Regions from separate parts of the Homo sapiens genome. Here regions 2 and 3 are each linked to region 1. The links come from fine-mapping of genetic effects on gene expression. A gene starts in region 1. Each other region holds a variant in brackets. All regions are shown on one strand. Distances are from middle to middle.

The links. PIP is the estimated chance that this variant, and not a neighbour inherited with it, causes the effect. A credible set is the group of variants that fine-mapping cannot tell apart.
Region 2: its variant is the best candidate, but not a certain one, in a credible set for the expression of SERPINB6 in whole blood (INTERVAL, PIP 0.88).
Region 3: its variant is the best candidate, but not a certain one, in a credible set for the expression of SERPINB6 in B cells (Fairfax 2012, PIP 0.56).

What each region holds. Positions count from the first base shown.
Region 1 is chr6:2,969,202-2,973,440 of GRCh38, reverse strand. It overlaps SERPINB6 (serpin family B member 6), which reads left to right and starts at 1,874. Exons shown (of 7, transcript NM_004568.6): 1 at 1,874-1,908. RefSeq lists an enhancer at 1,569-2,093.
Region 2 is chr6:2,937,161-2,941,399 of GRCh38, reverse strand. No RefSeq gene overlaps it. Among named protein-coding and RNA genes, the nearest start is that of SERPINB6, 32 kb to the left of the region's middle. The variant C/T (reference allele first, on the strand shown) is at 1,799.
Region 3 is chr6:2,948,839-2,953,077 of GRCh38, reverse strand. SERPINB6 (serpin family B member 6) reads left to right here. Exons shown (of 7, transcript NM_004568.6): 5 at 1-34; 6 at 4,009-4,164. Among named protein-coding and RNA genes, the nearest start is that of SERPINB6, 21 kb to the left of the region's middle. The variant T/A (reference allele first, on the strand shown) is at 1,684.

The DNA of each region.
Region 1 (4,239 bases):
CCCAGGCTGGGGTGCAGTGGCATGATCTCAGCTCACTGCAACCAACCTCCGCCTGCTAGATTCAAGCAATTCTCCTGCCTCAGCCTCCTCAGTAGCTGGCACTACAGATGTGTGCCACCATGCCTAATTTTTTTATATTTTTAGTAGAGACGGGGGTTTCACCATGCTGGCCAGGCTGGTCTCGAACTCCTGACCTCATGATCTGCCTGCCTTGGCCTCCCAAAGTGCTGAGATTACGGGCATGAGCCACTGCGCCCTGCCAAGTAAGTTCTTTAGTGGTGATTTGTGAGATTCTGGTGCATCTATCACCTTAGCAGTATACACTGAACTCAAATTTGTAGCCTTTTATCCCTCACTCCCTTCCCACCCTTTTCCCCCAAGTCCCCAAAGTCCATTGTATCATTCTTATGCCTTTGTATCCTCATAGTTTAGGTCCTACTTATGAGTGAGAACATACAATGTTTGGTTTTCCATTCCTGAGTTACTTCACTTAGAACAACAGTCTCCAATCCCATCCAGGTTGCCAATGCCATTAATTCATTCCTTTTTATGGCTGAGTAGCATTCCACCGTATACGCATACCACAGTTTCTTTATCCACTCTTTGATTGATGGGCATTTGGGTTGGTTTCATGTTTTTGCAATTACGAATTGTGCTGCTATTAACATGCGTGTGCAAGTATCTTTTTTGTATAATGACTTATTTTCCTCTGCGTAGATACCCAGTAGTGGGATTGCTGGATCAAATGGTAGTTCTATTTTTAGTTATTTAAGGAATCGCCATACTATTTTCCACAGTGGTTGTACTATCCATCAGCAGTGTAGAGGTGTTCCCTCTTCACCAAATCCACGCCAACATCTATTATTTTTTGAGTTTTTGATTTTTTGATTAAGGCCACTCTTGCGGGAGTAAGGTGGTATCACATTGTGGTTTTGATTTGCATTTCCCTAATCATTAGTGATGTTGAGCATTTTTTCTTGTTTGTTGGCCATTTGCATATCCTCTTTTGAGAACTGTCTATTCATGCCAGCCCACTTTTTGATGGGATTTTTTTTTCTTGCTAATTTGTTTGAGTTTCTTGTAGATTCTGGATATTACTGCTTTGTCGGATGTATAGATTGTGAAGATTTTCTCCCACTCTGTAGGTTGTCTGTTTACTCTGCTTGACTATTCCTTTTGCTTTGCAAAAGCTATTTAGTCTACTTTTTTTTTTTTTTTTTTTTTTTTTTTTTTTGAGACGGACCAGACTGGAGTGCGGTGGCGCCATCTCGGCTCACTGCAGCCTCTGCCTCCCGGGTTCAAGTGATTCTCCTGCCTCAGCTTCCCCAGCAACTGAGATTACAGGCACGCGCCATTACACTCGGCTAATTTTTGTATTTTTAGTAGAGACGGGGTTTTGCCATGTTGGCCAGGCTGGTCTGGAACTCCTGACCTCCAGTGATCCGCCTGCCTCGGCCTCCCAGTGTTGGGATTACTGGCGTGAGCCCCGCGCCCGCCCCTGGCTGGCTTCTTTGCCGCAAGCTGTTTCATCAGCAAAGTCTTTGTGACCTGTATCTAGTCTGCTCATTTTTAAATGCGTGTTCTGCACTCCCCAGTGGATGGCCGTGTATCAGGAGCCGGCCCTTTTCTGGAAACAGGCCAGCATTCAGTCTCCACAGAGGCACCATAAACACGCTGGTGGGGCCCTGTACTGTGGTCAAAGTCAAGGCCTCCGGGCAGGACTCGCGGCCCCTCCGGCTGGCGGGTGGGGTTGACCCGCACGTCCCGCCCCGCCTCTCCCTTCGCGCTCCGGACGGGCGACGGTAGCTCGAGACCCGGGACTCCGCCCGCCTCCCCGCGAGTATTTGAGGTCCGGGGCGGCTCCGGCGCCTCTGCCCGCCGTTCTGCTCGCTCGCTCCCCGCTCTGGAGTACGTGTCTGGCTTGGGAGCCGCTCGGACACGCTGGCTTGGGTTTGTCGCTCCAAAGTCGGGAAAGCCGGGGGCGCGAGCGGGGAGGGGGGCAGGGTGGGGGTCGCGCGGGGCCGGGAACGCGCGTGGGTCGACGGCGCGCGGGGACGCTGGAGCCCCGAGAATGGGGCGTGGCCGCGCGGGGCTGTGACCCCAGCAGTCCCAGCGGGGCGGGGGCCCGGGCGAGCGTCCGGCTTGGGTTCCCTTCCGGAGCCTCGCAGCGGCAGAGAACGGCGACGCGGCCGGGTGAGTCGTGCGTGGCCGCGAGCCCGGCCGGTGACGCCGCGGACCCGAGGACCCCGGGCGCCCAGGCCCAGCGCCCACGGAAGAGGCGGCCGGCGCGGGATGGGGGCGGCGCAGAGCCTCCCGGGCCACAGGTGACCCCGGTCGGCCCCGCGGCCTCGGTGACCCCTCGCCCGCTCCGCGACCCGGAGGACGCGTGCTCAGTCTTGGGGCGCCGGGTGTTAGGAGCCGGGCGGGAGGCGGAGAGAGGCCGAGGGGTTCGGCGCCAAACGGTGCCATCCGGGCCCCCTGCGTGTGTTCACTGGACTGGCCGTGCTGGGCTTGGCCAATCCGCAGCACTTTCAGGTCGCCCAGACCTGTGGAGACGATCGTGTGGACCAGCCCGGATCTCCTTACCGCTCTGTGTTTGAATTAAACTCCCTACAGGCAAACTATTACAGGCTTTGATGTCTTCAAGGCAAAGAGGAAACTTTAACTACAAATTGGCATTTAAGTTATTTTCTTCCTTTTTTTTTTTTTTTTTTTTGTCCTAAAGATTGGCTTCGGAAAACTGAGGTACAGAAAATTAATAATTAATGTTCACATGCTGTCAGGAATACTCAGATGCGAGGGGGCATCTGAGTCCATTTTTTGGGCACTTTTGCTTTCTGGGATGCTCTCGTGCCTAATGACAGCCCTGCAGCTGCCTGCATCCTTTCTGGTGGGGGTCAGGCCTGATGCGATGAGATCTGATGTGTTCAGTGACCTTCTAGTTAAGGTCCTGGGCCGGCCTTGTATTGCTGGGGCTTTTATGTGTGCTGGGATTAACACCAGTGACTGCTGTTATCAGCATAGATGGCGTTTGTTCTCATTTCAGGACCGTATCTGAGTAATTGCATCCATTGTGATGTGCCACCAAAGAGAAAAGTACTTTGGTCATACTCGACTATGTAAACTAAGTATTTTAAGTTAAGGCCAATTCCAATGCATTTTATTACAATTCAGCATGAAACAGTTAACACGGACCAGTAACAGTAGAGTGAAATTAGCATGAATAGAACCAACATTCTTTTCCACATATGTAATAATAAGGGCACCCAAGCAGATGTTGTACGGTCCCAGGGAAGACCACACACCTTACATTTCCAGGCTTACTGCACTTGGGATTAAGCCAAGGCATCCAAAGAAAGAAAATTTTTTTTTTTTTTTTTTTTGCCAGGCTGGAGTGCAGTGGTGCGATTTCGGCTGACTGCAACCTCCACCTCCCGGGCTCCATACCTGGCTAATTTTTGTATTTTTAGTAGCAATGGGGTTTCACCATGCTGGCCAGGCTGGTCTCAAACTCCTGACCTCGTGATCTGCCCGCCTTGGCCTCCCAAAGTGCTGGGATTACAGATGTGAGCCACTGCGCCTAGCCTGAAAATAATGTTTAACTCCCATTTATATGTTAGGCTGCTCAGATATATTAAACACATACACACACAACACACACACACACACACATACACACTGCACAAGGAAACAGAGGGACAAAGCAGGAAGTCCAAGTTTCCATTAAACCAGTCTTTAAATGGTTAAATTTAGTAGGAAATAAAGGCATCCTTAATAGAAGTTGAGAAGCACAATTCAATAGTGACACCTAAAAAAAAATTAAGACTTGATTAGTTGAATAAAATCAATTGTGAACATTGCTCAGTTACTGGTGATGCTACAGGAAAAAAAAAGTGATGCCAGGATAGATTTGTTAGGCTTGTTTAAAAAATACATAAAATTGTTCATTAATAAGACTTTAATATCCAGTTTTTATGTCTGTGATTAAATATCATTTTTTATTTTTAAATGGTATAGTTTTTAAATTTTGAAACAATTAATTTTGCATAAATATTTGTCTATGTACATATATACATGTGTATTCACATATATATATGAAGGACACTTAGCTATCTTATTTACTGAAGCTAAAGAAGTAGGTCCTTAAAAAGCCATTGACAGGTCTTGAGTTTGCAACGTGACTGTGAAACAGGCATCCTTGTTACTCACACGTTTGCTGAAAGGATAACAGAAAGCCCT
Region 2 (4,239 bases), 32 kb after region 1:
GTATTTCAATTTTATTGCATATATTATATTGCATATGAGTTTAACTCATATTTTGAGTTTTTAATCTCTTACTGTACCTAATTTATAAACTTTATTATATGTATAGAAAAAAACAGTATATATAGGATTCAGTACTATCCATAGTTTCAGGCATCCACTGGAGATCTCTGAACATATCCCTTGCAGGTAAGGGGGGAAGCTGCTGTGTACTTCTATATGTGTCGCATGTGAAGCGTGGCCAAAATGGGAAATCTGAAAATGAAGGGGGAAAATGAACATAATTAGGGCTTTGTTTACTTTCAGAAATGGGGTGTTATGTTGCCCAGGCTGGCCTCAAATTCCTGGACTCCAGCAATCTACCCCACCTCAGCCTCCCACGCAGCTGGGATTACTGGCATGTACCCCCACACCCAACATGGGTGGCTTATATCTTTTTAAGTTTACTTATTGTAAGTCATGTTGGCTACAATTAAAAATATATATTATATACTTGAAAATGAGTAAGATTCAAAATGTTCTTGTAAACTGTGTGTCTTCCCCTATCTGAAGGAATTTGGGAGGAGCAACCTTGCAAGAACCTTGGTCTTTTTACACCCAGAAATTGGTTTTTGGTTTCACTGACTTCAAGAATAAAACCGCAAACCCTCAGTGAATACTATAGCTCTTAAGGCGGCGCGCCTGGAGTTGTTCGTTCACTCTCACTGGGCTCGTCGTCTCACCCACTATAGAAATGAAATTGCAACTTTCGCAGTGAGTGTTCCGTTCCTCCTAATGGGCTCGTCGTCTCACCCACTTCAGAAATGAAGTTGCAACTTTCACAGAGTCGTCTCACCTACTTCAGAAATGAAGTTGCAACTTTCACAGATGAGTGTTTCGTTCCTCCTGCCGGGCTCGTCATCTCACCCACTTCAGAAATAAAGTGACAATTTTCGCAGTGAGCGCTACAGCTCATAAAGGCAACGCAGACGCCAAATGCAAACGAACAAACCTTATCACAGCACAGAAAACCCCAACGGGTTACCACTACAAGCTCCGGCAGCCTGCTTTTATTCTTTTATCTGGCCCCACCCACATCCTGCTGATTGGTAGAACCAAGTGGTCTGTTTTGACAGGGCGCTGATTGGTGCGTTTACAATCCCTGAGCTAGACATAAAGGTTCTCCAAGGCCCCACCAGAGTAGCTAGATATAGAGTGTCAATTGGTGCATTCACTAAACCTTGAGCTAGATGCAGGATGCTGATTGGTGTGTTTACAAACCTTGAGCTAGATACAGAGTGCCGATTGGTGTATTTACAATCGCTGGGCCAGACACAAATGTTCTCCATGGTCCCCACCAGACTCAGGAGCCCAGCTGGCTTCACCCAGTGGATCCTGTACTGGGGCTGCAGGTGGAGCTGCCTGCCACTCCCACGCCATGCGCCCACACTCTTCAGCCCTTGGGTGGTCGATGGGACTGGGAGCCATGGAGTAGGGGGTGGTGTTCATCAGGGAGGCTCGGGCATGGCGGGCTGCAGGTCCCAAGTCCTGCCCCGCGGGAAGGCAGCTAAGGCCCAGTGAGAAATAGGGCGCAGCGCTGGTGGGCTGGCACTATGGGGGAACCCAGTACACCCTCTGCAGCCACTGGCCCGGGTGCTAAACCCCTCATTGCCCGAGGCCGGCATGGCCGGCCGGCTGCTCCGAGTGCGGGGCCCGCCAAGCCCACGCCCACCCGGAACTCCAGCTGGCCCGCAAGCGCCGCGCACAGCCCCAGTTCCCGCTGGCGCCTCTCTCTGCACACCTCCCTGCAAGCTGAGGAAGC[C/T]GGCTCCGGCCTTGCGTGGCCAGCCCAGAAACGGACTCCAACAGTGCAGCGGCGGGCTGAAGGGCTCCTCAAGTGCCGCCAAAGTGGGAGCCCAGGCAGAGGAGGCACCCAGAGCGACCGAGGGCTGTGAGGACTGCCAGCATGCTGTCACTTCTCACTTTGTACTTTTAAAAGGAAAGAATTCAAATGAGAGACAGGCAAGGGAACATTTATTTTAAGCAATGTGAAAGTTCATTGGAGAAAGTAGGCTTGGAAGAGGGTCAAGCAGGAGACTTCAAAAATCAAGTGCTGCTTCCGCTTTGATTTTTTTTTTTTTTTGGACGGAGTCTCGCTCTATTGCCCAGGCTGGAGTGCAGTGGTACAATCTCAGCTGACTGCAACCTTTGTCTCCAGGGTTCAAGCGATTCTCCTGCCTCAGCCTCCCGAGTAGCTGGGACTACAGGTGCTTGCCACCACGCCTGGCTGATTTTTTGTATTTTTAGTAGAGACAGGGTTTCACCATGTAAACCAGGATGGTCTTGATCTCCTGACTTCATGATCCACCTGCCTCAGCCTCCCAAAGTGCTGGAACTACAGGCGTGAGCCACCACCCCAGGCCTGCTTACAGTTTTTATACCCCTTACTCTTTTCCAGGCTGTCTCCACTCTTTGTTCTTCACCTCCCGGGCTGGCCCTCAAGTATTGCATGCCCAGTAGCCCTCCCAGTAGGCGCTGGATGGTTACTGAAGTTGTGCGCATGCCCATTAGATGCAATTCTCCCTTACTGGTCGAGCGCCCCTAGAGGAAAGTCATACACCGGGTAAATTTCACACCTTTCTATTACTGCACATGCTCAAAACCTTGTCTGGGACTGCCTTGCTAACTCCAGGTGTCTTCTGTCTGTTGCAAGACTCCTGTTATTCCCAGCGCCAGCCATGGCCACTTATTACCCTAGAGGGATAGTTTTATGCCCTTCAATCCCGGTCCCAATGAGAACCAGACAGCTCTGGGGTCCCTTCCTTGTCTTGCTCATTATTTCAGAGGGACAGATTTATAATTGTGACTGTGGCTTGACAAATGTCCAACATTCTTGGGGGCCCGTGCATGCCCTGCTCACGTCTAACCGCCTACTCTGACATTCTCATCACAAAAAAAATAGATGAGGTAATGCGTATGGGAATTAGCTTGTTTTAGCCATTCCACTGATATGGAAGGGTGTGCTCTCTTTAAATAACATGGCGGGGGGGGGAAGGGCGTGGTCCCTGGCTAGGGCTCCAACCCTGGGCCTGTGCCCACGGACCTAGTTGAGGACAGGCATTTTTGTTTTCCTGCCCCAATGTTGCACTTCTCAAGACCACCCTGGCCTGCCACGCCCCTACCCTGTGCCTGTAAAACCCTGAGACGCTAGCAGGCAGACACACAGGTGGCTGCATATCGAGAGGAGTACATCAGTGGAGGAACACACGAGCGGCTGGAAGTTGAGAGGAATGGGATGCACCAGCAGGCACCGGCATGCAGGCAGGCCATCCACCGGCAGAACAACGCAGTTTGACGGGGGCAGTTGAAGGAGAGCCCAGGTTGCCAGACTTACCTTGCACTCATTCTCCAAGCCCACATGTGATCCGATTCTTCTGGTACACCAAGGCAGGAACCCCAGGATACAGAAAGCCCTCTGTCCTTGCGATAAGGTAGGGGTCTGATTGAACTGGTTAACACAAGCCACCTATGGATAGCTAAACTAAAAAAGCACTCTAACACATGCCCAGTGGAGCTTCAGGAGTTGTAAACATTCAGCCCTAGACACTGCAAAAGGGTTGGAGCCCCACAGCCTACCTGTCTGTATTCTCTCCTAAAAGTTGGAGCAGCAGGGCACTAAAGTGAGCCATCAGCCCCATCACACATCCCGAGAGGAACAAGGGAACTTGCCCAGTTTCACTACCATGTAAGCATGTATCAAAACATAACATTGCAAAAGTCTACACAACTATTACTTGTCCATTTTTTAAAAATTCACTGCAAGTGATTTTTATTAGAGGACCTAAGACTGTCAAATCGTTCTTTAAAAATGTTTGGAAAAGATCAAATTGAATTTTTAAAATTCACAATTTAAACTTTAAATATACGTTATTCTCAAAGTACAGTTATTTGCTATGCAGTGAATTGTGCCCAGCCCCCTCCACAAATTCATACGTTGAAACCTTAACACGTAATTCATGATTTTAAACGAGAAATTTTTACAGTTAAGGTTGCTAAAAACAACCATCACCAAAAACACTGTGCTGGTGGGTTCATTGGTCTTACTGACTTCGGGAATGAAGCCACAGACCCGTGTGGTGTTACAAGTTCTTTAAAGCGGTATGTCCTCCCTTTACTTCTTTCATGGTGGGCTTAGCGATCTCATCGGCTCAAGAGTAAAGCTCTAAAACATTCAGTGAGTGTCATAAACTACATAACGCCATACGC
Region 3 (4,239 bases), 20 kb after region 1:
GAACACCGAGGAGAGACTGTTTAAAGTCAGCAAGGCGAGTAAGGGGCCGTGACAGGAGCAGCGCCTGTGTTCACACGAGCGTCTCCGGCTCGGGGCCTCCCGCGTCTGCAGCCGTGGGGCCTTTCTGTCCCTGCCCCTCCTGCTTGACATCCATTGGGTGGCCTCGTGTCCCTGGGCGCCTGGCATCCGCCCTGCCACCTACAGGGCAAGTCTGAAGCTGCAGCCCTCAGGCTCGATCAAGGTCTTAAAGCTCAGACTCCAGATATGGCGTGCCATCTTCTAGCGGACATTTCCTCCTTTTCTCTAGCTTCATTCCCATCAGGACCTACCCACTCCTTTCTTTCTGGCGGCGTCCCGGGAAGCCCCGCTACCGCGCCTCCTGCTGGCCTCCGTGCCACACTGCAGGAGCGGAACAACTCAGCCTGCTGAATTGAGGCTGAGCAGGGAGGACTCTCTGACAAGTGCCAGACACGTAGCTGGTGCTTAGTAAATGCTGAACCGATGAGTGATATTCAGTCCTCTCTTGATAGTAAGGATAAGTACAGATTTTTGTTTTAAAACAACCAAACCAAACATGTAGATAGACACTGAGATTAACCACCTCCAGCGTGGAAGATGTCATTTGCTGATGGCCCTTTATCTTCCTCTCACTGAATCTTCTTTATTGTCTCTTGTTTTGTTTTTCTTTAACTATAGAAATTTTTGAACATAGACAAAGTAAACAGAATAGATTAATTACAGTGTATTCTTGATCATTGACCATAGTTAGATCTTCCAGGCTAACTTGAACTTGAGCCTTCAGTTTTTCAAGAAATTTATTTTCATTGTCTGTTCTCCTCGCAATTCAGAAAGAATTATTTTCTTTGAAGCTTTATTCTGAAATGAACTGTGCTATTTTCCCCTGGCAAAATAATTTCTCTCTTTAAAATTTAATGATTAACAAGATGTACAAGGGCTTTGACTACAGATAACAGAAACCCCGGTTCACCATGGTTTATCTCCTAGGAGCTCATCTCCCCTGCTAGGAGGTCTGGAGGCAGGTGAGACCTGGGCTGGTCTGGCACTGGGGCGATGATCCCAGGGAGGCGGCTCCACCATTCTCAGCACGTCGCCTTCTTCCTCATGGTCACAAGATGGCTGAGCTGGCTTCAGCAGTCCCGGTGGCAGGGAGGGGGAGGAACAAGGGAGGGGAGGGGAGCCTAAACCTTCCCCTTAGTGGTTCTGCGTTTCAGAAAGGGAAAGCTGCTTTCTATATGGTGTAGGCCAGAACTATAGGTCTTGTGGGTTTGGGGAGATGTGGAATCCCGTCATGCTTTCTGAGTTCTGCAGTGAAGAAGGGTGAAGGAAGGGGCTGCAGTATTGAGCGTACCAGCCTGAGGCCAGAGGTGTACCTCCAAGGGCACAGATTTTGAGTTGATACAGATTCTTATTTTAATTTCATTACCTTCTATATAAACTGGAACTTGTCTATATAATTGTGTATTTAGTGAATCATTCAGTCACTAAGGTTAGATCTTTTTATATTGCAAGATTGGAGGCTTTGGACCCTGAAGGGGTGCAGGGAGGAATTACTGAAGGCAGGGGTCAGCAAACTTCAGCCTACAGCAAAGCCAGCCCACCACCTAATTTTTTTTAAAGGTTTACTGAAACACAGCCATGCTTATTTTTTTTTTTTATTTTTTA[T/A]TTTTTCCAAGACAGAGTTTCTCTCTTGTTGCCCAGGCTGGAGTGCAGTGGTGCCATCTCGGAACACTGCAGCCTCCGCCTCCCGGGTTCAGGTGATTCTCCTGCCGTGGCCTCTTGAGTAGCTGGGATTACAGGTGTGTGCCACTATGCCCGGCTAATTTTTGCATTTTTAGTAGAGACGGGGTTTCACCATGTTGGTCAGGTTGGTCTCGAACTCCTGACCTCAGGTGATCCACCTGCCCGGGCCTCCCACAGTGCTGGGATTACAGGCGTGAGCCACCACGCCTGGCCCATGCTTATTTACTTACTTATTTCATCCTGTAACAACAGCTGAGTCGTTGTGACGGAGATGGTACATGTAGCCACAAACCGGAAAATAGTTCCTGTCTGGTCAGTTATGGAAGAAACATGCCTACTGCTGGCCAAGGAAATGAGTGGGGCAGCCGAGGCCCAGGAGACTGCTCTAGCCAAAGGCTAAGGGCCAGCCCAGGCGAGCCTCTACCACGTGAAAGCAGAAAGCTGCCGCCGCAGTGTATTTTATTTATTCCATTTAACACAGAAGAATGTGCTACACCAGAGACTGGGGACCATACGGCGTCTTTGACTGTGCCTATTGCAGGGTATTTACTCAACTCACAGGAGCAGCTCCGAGTCAGGAACTGAGGGGGATTGTTGGATGGGGTGTGGTTCCTGGCCTCCAGTCTTTCTCATTGGCTGGCTGGGGTTGGTGACCAGTGCAGTTTTTTCTGGTGAGATGTGTAAATGTTGCCTGGCCTTTTTAGCATCCCAGCTCATTAATTCGTTTATGCATTTATCATTTATTCAGCAGAGATTGACTGAGTGCCTTTTTTTTTTTTTTTTTGAGATGGAGTCTCGGTCTGTCTCCCAGGCTGGAGTGCAGCGGTGCAATCTTGGGTCACTGCAACCTCTGCCTCCCGGGTTCAAGTGATTCTCCTACCTCAGCCTCCCGAGTAGCTGGGATTACAGGAGCGCACCACCATGCCCAGCTAATTTTTCTATTTTTAGTAGAGGTGGGGTTTCACCATGTTGGCCAGGCTGGTCTCGATTTCCTGACCTCAGGTGATCCGTCTGCCTCAGCCTCCCAAAATGGTGGGATTACAGGCATGAGCCACCATGCCTAACCTGACTGAGTGTCTTCTATGTATCAGGCATGGTGCTAGGTATTTTTCAGCCATGCACAAAACAAGCAAAGCATGCTTGCCCTGGTGAAGCTTATGTTTTCTTGGGGGAGAGACAGCAAGCATAAATAAGAAAATAGGAGCATATTAGACAGTGGTAAATGGTACAGAGACATACCAAGGGAGGGGATAGGAATCTGTGTTTGGGGTGGGAGTGTAGGGTCAGGTAAGATCTATCAAGGACAGCTTCTCTGCCAAGGTGGTTTTTGAACAAAGACCGTAAAGAGGCAGAAGTTCACTCTCCAGGTTCTGGAGGACAAGCTTACTGCGTAGAGATGAGATGAACTGGGTTTGCTGGCAGTGCAGTGAGGAGGCCTCTGTGACTGTAGCAGATAAGCAAAGGGAGAGGGAACTGGGGACGAGCTCTTATCACAATTCCAGGCTTTTTAGGGACTTTCAGCTCCTGCTCCGAGTAAATGGGGAGCCAGGGAAGGGTGTCCAGCCAAAGAACAATGTGATCTGCCTTAGGTTCTACCGGGCCCCTCTGGCCACTGTGCTGGGAACAATCACAATCATATTATCACAATATTCCAGGGCTAGGCTGGTAGCAGCAGAGGCAGAAGGAACAGGTCAGATTTTGTTATATTCTCGAGGTAGAGCCAATATAATTTGCCAGTGAGTCAGACACAGGGTGTGAGAGAAAGACAGGAGTCAGGGGCACTCCAGGGCTTTTGACCACTGGACAGTGGCACTGCCCTCAGCTGAGATGGGCAGAGTTGCAGTAGACAGAGCCGACTTGGAGGATCTACGGAGTGCCGCATTACAGGTGGCGCTGGGAGTTTCTTTTATGTCCAAACATAGGTGCAGGTGGGCAGTAAAATGCAGGAGGCCCAAGGACAGGGCAGAGGCCCAGGCGGGAGGTAAATTTGGTGTGATATTGTGTTTAAAGCCATGAGACTGAATGCGATCAATGAGAGGAAAGACACGTTGGGTTTGGGCCCTGGGCACCCCAGTTTCTGGAGGTTGAGGTAATGAAGATGGCAGAGCAGGCGCTGCCGGGTGTTCTGGAAGCTGGGGAGAAACCGAGCTGCGTTTCTCCCTGCAGAGAGTGGCCAGCTCCGACACATTTGTCCCATGTGTCAGTGGGGTCTTGTTTCAACTTGATGTTTATCTGTTTTCTTTGTAGAATGAGGAGAAACCTGTGCAAATGATGTTTAAGCAATCTACTTTTAAGAAGACCTATATAGGAGAAATATTTACCCAAATCTTGGTGCTTCCATATGTTGGCAAGGAACTGAATATGATCATCATGCTTCCGGACGAGACCACTGACTTGAGAACGGTAACAGCTAAGCTGTGAGCGAGGCGTGCTAGCAAGGAGCCACTCGGGGGTGTCTGCTGTGGCTGCTGTCCCTAC